Regions from separate parts of the Homo sapiens genome. Here region 2 is linked to region 1. Evidence: fine-mapped expression QTL. Tissue or cell type: whole blood. Region 1 holds a variant in brackets; the other region holds the start of a gene. All regions are shown on one strand. Distances are between the middles of the regions.

Region 1 (6,367 bases):
TTTTTTTGAGGTGGAGTTTTGCTCTTGTTGCCTAGGCTGGAGTGCAATGGCGCAATCTCGGCTCACTGCAACCTCCGCCTCCAGGAGTAGCCTCCCGAGTAGCTGGAATTACAGGCATGCGCCACCATGCCCAGCTAATTTTGTATTTTAGTAGAGACGGGGTTTCACCATGTTGACCAGGCTGGCCTTGAACTCTTGACCTCAGGTGATTCGCCTGCCTCGGCCTCCCAAAGTGCTGGGATTACAGGTGTGAGCCACCGTGCTTGGCCTCAAGTTCAGTTTTCTTGAAGAGAGTATTTCATAGGTGGTGTGTGTGTTTCCTTATATCGCCTGAGGCACATACTACCTGGTTGCCCATTTTTAGTGATTCTGGGATTGATCAGTAGATTTGAGGATTATCTGCCTTATCCCTCCATTGATGAAGTTCCCAATTAGCCTTTCATGTAATGGCCTTAGCAGTTATTGATGAGTGTTACCAGATCCATTATTTCATTATGGGTTACAGAATGCTGATTATTTAAACTTCTATCCTTTTGCATTTTTAATTAGAACCCTAGAAAGAAAAATCTTCCTTTGTCAATTATTTGCTTACCACAAAATATCATTTATGTAGGAAAGACAGGATAAATGCTTGATTTTTTTTTTCTCTCTCTCTGTTAGTTTTCAGAGTAATGAGCTGTTGCCATACTGGCTCATTTTTTAGTATTATGAAATCCTGAGTTTTCATATGCTTGATGTGTTTCAAATACTGTCATTATTCTTACTCTGTGTAAGGCTGGCAGAAGCCCCTGCAGGTTGGCTTCTGAGTCTTTCTGATGTGGCGTATTTGTCTGGTAGTATCCTTGCTTTCTAGTGCAGGATGTCCCAGGCTCAGCTCAGGTACCTCTTCCCCAGTCCTGACATTAGCCATTTTCCCAAGGAGCCTTAGTTCCTTTTAGTAGAAAACGGTGGTCCTACATTCTTGAACACTTGAAGTCAAGCTTGCTTCTCCCCTTCCCTAGTCTCTTTCCTTTAAGGGTAAAAGCAGCATTAGCTTCCCATCCTACTCAAGAAATCTGTGTCTGGGAAGTTTCTGACGTATACCGTACTATAGTATAGAGATCTCTGAAATCCCATGAGCAGTGTTCTTGGGGAGGGAACAGGCAAGCAAGAATGGCCGGACTCTGTGCTGACTCATCTGCTTTGAGGCTAAAGTGAGCCTTTGGGAGCTAGAGTAAGAGAGGCCCCTGAGTCCCCAGCAGACAGGGAGGTTAGTCAGGCCCTGCTCCCTGTGCACTCACTCTTGGTCTAATTTCTTACCAGTGGATGATTCTGTTTGAGCCTTTCTCTCTAAGAGTCTCTCTCTAGAAACCTACCCCTTTCTGGTAGATATGATCTCTGTCCCACTTACTTTCTCTCTTGGGTGGCCTGAGGGTAAGGTGATATATAGTCTTTGAAATTGATTATATTATGTTTCTAATCCTTTCATTTGTAGGTATCTAGGAAAAAAGCTAAGGGAAATAAGACGGAAACCCGCTTCAACCAGCTGGTCGAACAATATAAGCAGAAATTATTGGGACCTTCTAAAGGAGCACCTCTTGCAAAGAGGAGCAAATGGTTTGATAGTTGATGATGGCAGCAGGCTGGGTAAGAAGCTGGGTTGTGTACTTTCTGGTGACACTCCTGGGCTCCTCCCCATCCCCCGTGTCTCTCACTGAGGGAAAGAAAATCCCCAAGGGCACTGCCACTGTGCTCGGAGGTGCCCTGGACTGTGTACATCTGAACTTTGGTCCATCCTTTGATGTGTGGTTCGTTAGCCACAAAGAGAAATATCTGAAAGTCAACATGATGCTTCTTGCATATTATCCAGATTATTGTATGAAGTTGTGTCTATAATTATTACCAATTTTTATTCTTTATTTCTCAAATGGAAACACCTGAAAAAGCATTCTGGAGTGCTGAATTTTTAAGATGTATATTTTGTTAAGCATATTCTCTAAATGAGATATTGTGTGGCTTTTTAGTAACAACGTCATTTCTAATATGTGTGACTCCTTTATTATGTATGAACATTCTTTGACATTCCTAATTCAGCTCTGTAGTCTTACACACTGCAGGAACTGTCTAAGCGAGAGCAGAGAGAAATGCTTTCTAACCTAATCGCTGCAGGCGGAGACACTTGGAAAAGAATGGGGGGAGGTGGGGCCTGACAGAGAGCAGCACTTATGTGTTTGTCAGATGAGGGGATTTCCAGTTGAATTGGCCTGCAGTGGCCTAAAGACACTAGCCTGGTTAGCGATGACCTGCATTTCTCTCATAGAGCACCTCCCTTTTCATCGTATCCACTAGCTCTCTAAGTCCTCCTTAATGAGGACACTTGATCCTCATTAAGTCTGCCCCTTAAGATGGCTTCACACCTACTGAAAAACTCCAGGGGTTTGACATCTCACTTTGATTGAAATCTTGTCTTCCTATAACATTTGATTCCCTGGGCTCTTCAGCCCTATCACCTCTGCTTGTCTTTATCCACTCTCTTCTTCATTCACTTTTGGCTACACAGGCCTTCCTTCCATCTCTTGACTCTTGACCACCTCAGAGCCTTTGTATCCGTTCCCTTTGCCTGGAGAGTTTTTCCCTTGCATCTTTTACTTGTCACTCAGATCTCCACTAGTTGTCGCCTCCTCCTGGAGCTCTTCCCAGACTATCTAAAGTAGGGCTTTTCTTCCCCTCCCCTCTATCTTGCCCCCTTACTGAAATCTGCTTCCCTGTTTCTTCTTCTTTTTTTTTTTTTTTTGAGATGGAGTCTCACTCTGTCGCCCAGGCTGGAGTGCAATGGCGCTGTCTCAGCTCATTGCAACCTCCACCTCCCGGGTTCAAGCGACTTTCCCGCCTCACCCTCCCA[A/G]GTAGCTGGGACTACAGGTGCACGCCACCATTCTTGGCTAAATTTTGTATTTTTAGTAGAGATGGGGTTTCACCATGTTGACTAGGCTGGTCTTGAACTCCTGACCTCAGGTGATCCGCCCACCTCGACCTCCCAAAGTCCTGGTATTACAGGCGTGAGCCACCACGCCTGGCCTGCTTCCCTGTTTCTTTCTAGCACTAATCTCTATCTGAAATCATTTGTCTCTTTCTAGCACTAATCTCTATCTGAAATTGTTTGTCTCTCCAGTTAGAATGTATGCTTTGTGAGAGGGACTTTATCCCTCTTGTTCACTCCTGTAGACACAGCACCTAGTACTGACCCAGGCACGTAGTAAGTATTGAATAAATATTTGTTGAATGAAAAAAATAAGGTAGGAAAGGAAGAAACAGTATTCAGTAGGCAAGAGAAAAAGTTGAGAACGTGGCCCAAAATTCTTGATTGCTTAGTCTAGTTGAGTGTTACAAATAATGCTTTGACAGAACCATTGCTGAGCTAGAGATATGGTTATTTCTTTTTTTTTTTTTTTTTTGAGACAGTCTTGCTCTGTTGCCCAGGCTGGAGTGCAATGGCATGATCTTGGCTCACTGCAACCTCCGCCTCCTGGGTTCAAGCGATTCTCCTGCCTCAGCCTCCCGAGTAGCGGGGATTACAGGTGCTGCCACCACGCCCGGCTAATTTTTGTATTTTTAGTAGAGACGGGTTTTCACCATGTTGGCCAGGCTGATCTCAAACTCCTGACCTTGTGATCTGCCCACCTCAGCCTCCTGAAGTGCTGGGATTACAGGCATGAGCCTGGTTGAGACATGGTTATTTCATCGCAATATCTTGGGGAACCCATGAATGCTCTGAAATGCCTTTGGTTTAGAAATGGATGAAGGAGAGGCCATGGAAATATTTAGACCTTTTGGAGAGATCGAAAGGACAGGTGATTTATCTCCAAGTTCACCTCGAGACATGACTTGGGCTGTCAAATGTTCTTACGGTAGCCTGGCAACATGTCTTTCTCAGCCTGGTCTGTACAGTGTGGAGGAAGTAAGGGACTTTATTAAGAGTGTCACAATAGCTATAACCTGCCAGTCAGGTGATCTGTTTTTCCTTGGCCATCTCTCCGTCTGCTCACCACTCTTTTTTCCCTAGTACACGAATATCTTTAACATTCAAAAATATATCTTAACACTTAGGATAGATCAAAATTGGTGTTCATTCAGATAACATTGTCAGATTCTCTTAGATCCAAATATTTCTTTTAACAACTTAACAGTATGTTAAAACCTCATTCACTTGCTTGGAGAGCTGTTGTACAGTTCTTTAAAGAGTTCTTTATATGAGGTTGAATCTTCCCTTTCTTAATAGTCAAATTCTATATATGGTGTCTTCCTTTGGAACACCTTACCATGGGCTATTTGGTCAGCTCCATTGACTCCTTGCCTTGGGAATTTTAGTGCAGTGAGAGTTGTGCTCACTTCTCCTTCACTTCAGGGCCTGATGTGTCAGGAAATGGAGTTTTCTGAATTAACATGAAAGTTGAGTTGCAGATTGCTTGGTTAAAAAACAACAGGTGGGGCACAGAGTCTCATACCTATGATTGCAGCACTTCGGGAGGTGGGAGGATTGCTTGAGGTCAGGAGTTTGAGACCGACCTGGCCAACATAGTGAGACCCCCATCTCTATTATTTTGAAAAACAACAGCAAATTTTTTCTTAACATCCAAGACAAGGCCACCAGTCAAAACTATCAAGTTTTAGTAGTATTTTCCTGCTTGATTATATAATAGCCTGGCTTAGAGATACAACCTTTAAATAAGGAATCTTAAGATGATGTGCAGCTGTTCTTTGCCTTATTTGTTTGTTTGTTGGTTAGTTTGTAGTTTCTAAGAATCTGCTCTGTTCAGCTGTACAGTTCCTTCTTCTGGAGTTAACCTGTGGCAAGGATTATGTTTCACCTGTCACAAAAATGAGATCTGTGCCTTCCTCTATTATAAAGTTAGGGCATGTGATTCATTCTTCGAAATACTTCAAAATGTACTTTGGTATGTTTTTGTCTTGAAAAGAGGTTTTCTAGCTAGAAATTCGGGGCCCAGAAGGTCAAGGCTCCAGAGATCCCCTTCTCATCATCCTTCAGTTGTCTGAGGAGACAGAGGATCACATGTGTCACAGTGAGTGCTGATTCCCCAGAATCTGCAGTCTTAAGCTCCCCTGCTGACGCACACAGCCAGTTCTCTGCTTCATATTCATGTGACCCACTGTGAAGTGACAGGCAGCTGCCAATTCTGTCATATAAGAAGCAGCTCTGCCCATGCAACTTTGAAAGTTCCTGCACTTCTCCATAGACTGCTCCTTCATGGAAATAAACACATCATCACACTGTGGGTGCCTAAGCTAAGTTTGTTTGCAGTTTGATGATGCCCAGCTCCTTTTCAACTCAGCCTTAATTGGCACTTTAAGGGCCAGGATGAGGTTTCTCTCAGGCCAAGTCGAGATTTCCAGATTTCCTTTTGTCCAAGGCTGACCAGTTTAGAAGTTATTCACATCCTTGTTTTAGTTCTTTCCTTCTTGTCCTGGTACCTCTTCCTTTCCAGGATTATTTGCAGAGTCTGTGATGGCTTACTTGGTGACCAGACATGGGGTGAGCTACTGGTATAGTCTGATTACTTTGGCATCTATTCTGAACTGGTCATTGGCTGTACATGAGTTTTTGTGCTGGTAAAGGAATATACTGGGAAGATTGGAAGGCACAGACTGGGAACTAATTCTGAGAAGAGAACTGCTGAGTTACTGAAAGACCTTTTGGACCACCCCTAAATGGAGCATCTTGATAGATGGCAAATCCAGTGTTTCTTAAACTTGTCCATGCTGCCCAGAGCCCACTGCCTTTTATCAGATGTGAGACTTCACTGCCACAGTGTCATCCCACAGTTTCCTTCCCTGGACATTTGATAAAGGGAAAATCATTTCTTGTCCTTTAAGGCAGGGACTATTATTTTTTCACTTTTCCACATACCCCACAACACCTAACATTGATTTACTCGTAGTAGGAGTTTCATACTGTTGAACTCTCTAAAGGCCATTTGTTCCAGGGCCTAGCTGGGCTTGTGAAGGACAACAGAGTCATTTCCTAAGGACCCCAAAAGACAGCATGAAGGAAAAAATAATAATAAACTGCTGTTCACAGTGCCTTGAGTGTACCACCGTACTTTCTGCTATGCCTTGTCCATTCCAATCTGGACAGTCTCTGTGCCCCTCCTTTCCACTCAAGTGTTATCCAGCACTCAAGTTCTGGCTCAAGGCCCAACATCTCCGTGGGGACCTCAGCCATCCCAGGGCATTGTGACCCCTTCCTCTAAGTCCCCGGCACACTCGCTGATTGGTACCCTCTCATTCGACAAAGCATATGCCATTGTGGCTTACTTGTCATTTCTTTAGGTCTTGCCTTCCCAAGTAGATCATGAGCCACTATAAGAACTAG
Region 2 (6,367 bases), 34 kb before region 1:
GGAAACCTTCAACAGAGAGGGCCCTTCTCCATCACAGTGCTCTTGCTCACTCCTCTCTCAAACAAGGGCAATTTTTCAAGAGTGTTAATGGGAAACCATTAGGCATCCACCTTAAGGTCCTATTTTGGCTCCTTCTGACTTAGTTTTGTTTCCTAATCTTAAAAAATCTTTAAGGGGCTCACATTTTTCTTCAATTATATATATATATATATATATATATATATATATATATATATATATATATAGAGAGAGAGAGAGAGAGAGAGAGAGAGAGAGAGAGAGAGAGAGAGAGAGAGAGACTGCATTGACATGCTTAAATTCCAAAGACCTTAAGTTCTTTAGAGATGGACTAAGTGGCTGGTATCATTGCTTACAAATGTGTTTTGAACTTGATGGAGCTAATGTTGAAAAATAAAGTTTAGGCTGGGTATGGTGGCTCATGCCTGTTATCCCAGCACTTTGGGAGGCCGATGACGGCTGATCACTTGAGGTCAGGAGTTCAAGACCAGCCTGGCCAAGTTGGTGAAACTCTGTCTTTACTGAAAATACAAAAATTAGCCAGGCATGGTGGTGGGTGCCTGTAATCTCATCTACTCAGGAGGCTGAGGCAGGAGAATTGCTTGAACCTAGGAGGTGTAGGTTGCAGTGAACCGAGATCGCACCACTGCATTCCAGCCTGGGTGACAGAGCGAGACTCTGCTCAGAAAAAAAGAAAAATAAACTTGTATTTTATTTTCAGAAGTCTCGAACTCCTGAGTTCCAGTGATCTACCCATCTTGATCTCCCAAAGTGAGTTATATATTTTTTTGAGATGGAGTCTTCCTTTGTTGCCCAGGCTGGAGTGCAGTGGTGCAATCTCGGCTCACTGCAACCTCTGCCTCCTGAGTTCAAGCGATTCTCCTGCCTCAGCCTCCCGAGTAGCTGGGATTACAGGCATGTGCCACCATGCCCGGCTACTTTTTGTATTTTTAGTAGAGACGGGGTTTCACCATGTTGGCCAGGCTGGTCTCGAACCCTTGATCTGGTGATCCACCCACCTCGGCCTCCCAAAGTGCTGGGATCACGGCCGCTCCTGGCCGTGAGTTGTATTTTTAAAAAATAATCGTGAAGTTTTATTTTAAGCATAGATTACTTACTTCGAACTAGAGCTCCATAAATGTGATGTTTAGCGTCCCCCTAATCTCCACTCCCATCACTATCAACCAGTCGTCTAGCCATCCAAAATGTATTGAAAGTGAATGGGGCTTGAGGAGATCATGAAACTTAATTTTCACCATAGTGCCTTATAAAAGGTACTAAAACTGTAAAGTTTTTGAGTTTTCTATCTGCCATGTTACTATCATTTAAAAGTAATGATTTGGCTGGGCTCAGTGGCTCACGCCTATAATCCCAACACTTTGGGAGGCCGTAGTGGGAGGATTGGTTTATCCCAGGAGTTCAAGACTAGCCTGGGCAACACAGGGAGAACTGTCTGTACAAAAAAATAAATAAATTGGCCAGGCATGGTGGTACACACTTGTGGTCCTAGCTTCTCAGGAGGCTGAGGTGGCAGTATTGCTTGAGCCCAGGAGATCAAGGCTGCAGTGAGCCATGATGGTGCCACTGCACCCCAAGTTGGGTGACAGAGCAAGAGTCTGCTAAAAAAAAAATTATTTAAAAAATGGCCTTGGGTACTTTTTTTTGAGCTAGTTGTTCTGCAAGGTGTAGCTCTCTTGCACCTATTCAGGTCCTGAGCCCAGTGGCATGGCAAACACTCTCTGTGTTCCAGAACCAGGAGCACCCAGATTTCCTAGCCAATTAAGAGCTCTCAGCTTTGGGTCTGTCTGATGAGCTGACTTGAGACAAAGATCTTCTGTTTCTAGGAGGACATGGGTTCTAGGTCTCTGTGTATAAGTTGGATGTTATGTTTGCTTTGAGTGTGTTTGATGTGGTCCTGCAGTGTGTGTGCTGTGATTTATTTGTAAGAATTTTTGGACTAATAGTCTTCCCAGCCAGGTGTGGTGGTTCACACCTATAATCCTAGCACTTTAGGAGGCTAAGGGGGGCTAATTGAGCTCAGGAGTTTGAGACCAGCCTGGGCAACATGGTGAAACCCTGTCTCTGCAAAAAATACAAAAATTAGCCGGGTGTGGTGGTGCACCTGTAGTTCCAGCTACTCAGGAGGCTGAGGCAGGAGGACTGCTTGAACCTGGGAGGTCGAGGCTGCAGTAAGCCGAGATCGTGCCAGTGCACTCCGGCCTGGTTGATAAAGTGAGGCCCTGTCAAAAAAAAAAATCTGTTTCCACCATTAGACTGTAATCTCTATGAGGGCAGGGACCCTGTCATTTCTTTGCTCACCAGTTTTATCCCTAATGCTTGGCTCATAGTTAGAGCTCAGTATATATTTATTGAAATAATAATTGTGTACTATCTGTGTCTATGTGTATTTTAGTAGCTACAATTTGTTTGTGAGGCTGAGGTGACAGACAGCTGGTGTTCTCCGAAAATGAGAATCGTCCGAATGATGTATATGATATATCTATGTCTACGTGTTAGTGTTCCGGTTGTGTTTTATGCACGTAATCTGGGAATTTGTGGAGGCACTTCAGAAAATATCAAACACCCACAGTATATCAGATCCTGAGTTACGCCCGGGGCAAAAACGACTTCTTCTGCCTGTCCTGCTAACTTTGGGGAGGATCTGGAGGTGAGATTTTTAAACAGGGTAGAAATTATTTATTTTTATTTTGTATATTAAGAAAAAAAATTACTTTTTGGAGGCCTTCCGGCAAAAACCAGAAAGCCTGCTAGGCAAATTCTAAAAAAGCTGTAACACTAGGGTAGAAATTATTGATGCCAAGTTTACACAAAAGTGGCGAGGGCGATGCTAGGGCAGGGGGCGGAGCCCCGCTCCAGAAGCTACGCCCCGGGGCGCCATTATTTTTTCATTCCGGAACCTTTTATCCCCCTCCCGACCATGTTTTCCTCCGGTCTCTTTTGGGCAACGAGCACTTCCGGAATCTCTCGGCGTGTGAGCTTGGTTGTCCTACCAAAGCCAGCGTTTCGGCTCGCGTGCGCCGGCCTAGTTTGCTCGCGTCCTCACGCGCTTTGGGTTTCCCGGTCTCATGGCCGGCCTGACCTTATTTGTGGGCCGCCTCCCGCCCTCGGCCCGCAGTGAGCAGCTGGAGGAACTGTTCAGTCAGGTGGGGCCGGTGAAGCAGTGCTTCGTGGTGACTGAAAAAGGTAGGGGCGGGGCGGTCGAGGATAGGGCTGGGGTTTCCTGCGATCGAGGGCACCTTCCCAAACTTCAGGGAGCCGTATCATTCTTTACCCTCCCCGAAGAGAAGGGACAGGGAACTGAGTTTCTTTTCCAAACTGATTCTGCTTTAGATGCGTTCATAGGAGTCAGTTTATGAAGGGCAAAGCATTCCCTTACGTTTCTATAGCGCTTTCTGTTGATTATGCGCGCTAAAAATGAAAATAGTTAACTAGAGCATCAGTAAGACTTATTGAGAGTCACCTGATTGGCAGGTACAGTGATCAGTTTGATACAGGTTATCTCATTTAATTTTCTCAGCAATCTTACCGGATGGAGAGTCTTAATGTCATTTTACAGACAGGAATCCGGGATTTAGGGGAATTTAGTAACTTTAAGTTTGTACGGCTGTTAAGTAGTGGACCCCCGATTTGATCCTCAGACCTGGACATCTTAGCCAGGATGCTATCCACTTGTTCATTCATTTATTCAGCAAATACTTAATACCTACTGTGTGCCAGGAAGTGTTGTAGGTCCTGGGGATGCAGCAGTGCACAACACCAAACCAAAAAAATCTTTGATTTTATGTCTTCAAGGTGGGGAAGAGAGCCAATAAACGAGCCAATAAACAAGCCAACCGTGAAAATGATGTCAAATGCTAAGGAGAAAAATAAGCCAGGGAAAGGGGTTAGGAAGTCTATGTGCATGTGTATAGTGGGGAGAGGGGGTGAAGAGTGGCAATATAGATAGGGTGGCCAGAGAAGGACGGACTGAGGTGAGAGAGTGAACACATGCCTCTCCGGAGGAAGAACAATTCAGGAAGAGAAAACAGCAAGCTCAAAGGTACTGAAACAGAGGTGTTTTTGGTATATTGGAGGAGTAGTAAGGAGGACAGGGTGACTGGATTGAAGTGAGTAAAGGGAAGAGAATTAGGAGATGAGATCTAGAGTAGCAGATCATGTAAGATTTTTTTTTTTTTTTAAAGACTGCGTCTTGCTCTGTCGCCCAGGCGGGAGTGCAGTGCCACGATCTCCGCTCACTGCAACCTCTGCCTCCTGGTTCAACCCATTCTCCTGCCTCAGCCTCCCAAGTAGCTGGGATTACAGGCGAGTGTCACTACACCTGGCTAATTTTTGTATTTTTAGTAGAGACGGGGTTTCGCTATGTTGGCCAGGGTTGTCTGGAACTCGAGACCTCAGGTGATCCGCCCGCCTCATGTAGGATGTTATAGACCATTGCAAGGACTTTGGCTTTTACTCAGAGATAGGAAGCCACTGATTTTAAGCAGAGAGCAGTAAGTGTGATCTGGCATTCGTTTTGAAAGATTCTCTCTCTGGCTGGTGTGTTGCCAATAGACTGTTGGAGAATAGGACAAAAGCTTATGTACTTAAAATAGGGACCGAAAGTCCTGTACAGTAATGTTTATTAAACTGCAGATTATTACCTATTAGTGGGTCTTGAGTGGGTCATGACTAGAGTTTGTTTTGTTGTGTTTTAGAAACAGGGTCTTGCTCTGTCAACCCTGTTGACAGTTGGAGTGCAGTGGTGCGATCACAGCTCAATGTAACCTTAAACTCCTGGGCTCAAGCAATCCTCCTACTTCAGCCTCCCAAGTAGCTATGACTACAGACGTGCTTCACCATGCCTGGCCAATTTTTGAATATTTTTTGTAGAGACAGGGTCTCACTACGTTGTCCAGGCTGGTTTCAAATGATCCTCCTGCCTTGGCCTCCCAAAGCACTGGGATTACAGGCATGTGCCACCACGCCTGGCCTAGAGTTCTTAAAAAATTAAATAGTATAGGAGTACGTCCATATATGGTAAAGGATAAGTATTTGTAAAACTTTTAAGTTTTAAATAAAGAATATATGTATGTACTGGGTTCCAGTGTAAGTAGCATTCCGTACCCAGGTGGTTGTATTCCAGGGAAGAATAGGCCATTGAATGGGAGTTCTCCTTTGAGTCCTCAGAATATAGGCTACATGCAATCTTACCTTACACCTTGTGTACTTGGTCTAAATCCTTAAAAATCTCTTACTTCCTTTTAAAAAACTATGCACTTTCCTATCCAGACAGCTGATATGTACTGGAAAGAGTGCTGCACTCAGTGAAACGGGAGGGAGGGTATGTGGAATGAAGTCTTCCTCAATAGCAGTGCATGTCACTTCACCTCTTTAAGATGGGAATAATTTCACAGGGTTGTCAGGGACTCTAAATGTATGTGAGCATGCTTTATGCAGACATGTAAAATGTGTGGTATTTACTGTATGTCCTTTCATTTGGGTGTCAAACTCTTTTACATTTCAGCTGCTTTACTTTTGGTTGTACTGATCATGAAGGGCTATGAATTTTCTTGTGCTCATTTTCTGAAAGGTGAGTGGGCAGCTTTTATGATAAGGAGTTCAAGAGAAGAGAAAAATTGATGTTATGTTGCTTTAACCAGTTTATGTAGATCAGTGTCCTGTGTCAAAGGGCTTATACCCTGAAGGAGATTCAAATGCAGTGGAAAGAGAAGCAGAGCATATGAACTATGTGTCCTTTTCAGGTAAAGGCAGACTTCTTGATCTGTCCTTTTCCTTTTTGATGCAATAAATTATTTAAAATTTTACTATACAAAATGTTAAACCAAAAAGGGCAAAGGTGGGTTACAGTTGATATTTGTAGTTTTCATCTCCTTGGTCCTAATATTATTCTTTGTGGAGTCCTATGGAAGAACATGGGGGCTGGTGAGGAGGAGTTAATTCAGCTACTAACACCCTGTGTGACATTAACCAATTCACTTACTGTCTTCCATCTCAAATTACTTACTTGGAAAGAAGGGGTGATAATATTTGCTTTACCTATTTTGAGGTGTTCTAAAGATAAAATGAGACAAGAATGCACAGCTGCTTTGGAAAGGTTTAATTTGATATCGACAGCTAAGGCGTTGGTAATAGTGGTCATAACATCTGCAGTCTCTCTGAGCAGTATTTATTGTTTGAGGTTCTTTTGTCTGGGCCTCAGGCATTTATTGCTGATCTATTTTGAGGAGTAACTGCATTATTGTGTTCTGATTTTTGAAGCTACCATACTGTCTTAATTCATTTTCTGTTGCTTATAAGAGAATACCTGAAACTAGGTACTTTGTAAAGA

What was found. PIP is the estimated chance that this variant, and not a neighbour inherited with it, causes the effect.
Region 2: it holds the start of RBM28, and the variant in region 1 is fine-mapped to the expression of RBM28 in whole blood (TOPMed, PIP above 0.99).

What each region holds. Positions count from the first base shown.
Region 1 is chr7:128,306,039-128,312,405 of GRCh38, reverse strand. RBM28 (RNA binding motif protein 28) reads left to right here. Exons shown (of 19, transcript NM_018077.3): 19 at 1,475-6,367. The coding sequence ends at 1,609. It also overlaps the pseudogene LOC100418961. Among named protein-coding and RNA genes, the nearest start is that of RBM28, 35 kb to the left of the region's middle. The variant A/G (reference allele first, on the strand shown) is at 2,882.
Region 2 is chr7:128,340,531-128,346,897 of GRCh38, reverse strand. It overlaps RBM28 (RNA binding motif protein 28), which reads left to right and starts at 2,990. Exons shown (of 19, transcript NM_018077.3): 1 at 2,990-3,222. The coding sequence starts at 3,105. It also overlaps the pseudogene RNU7-27P. RefSeq lists an enhancer at 2,850-3,049.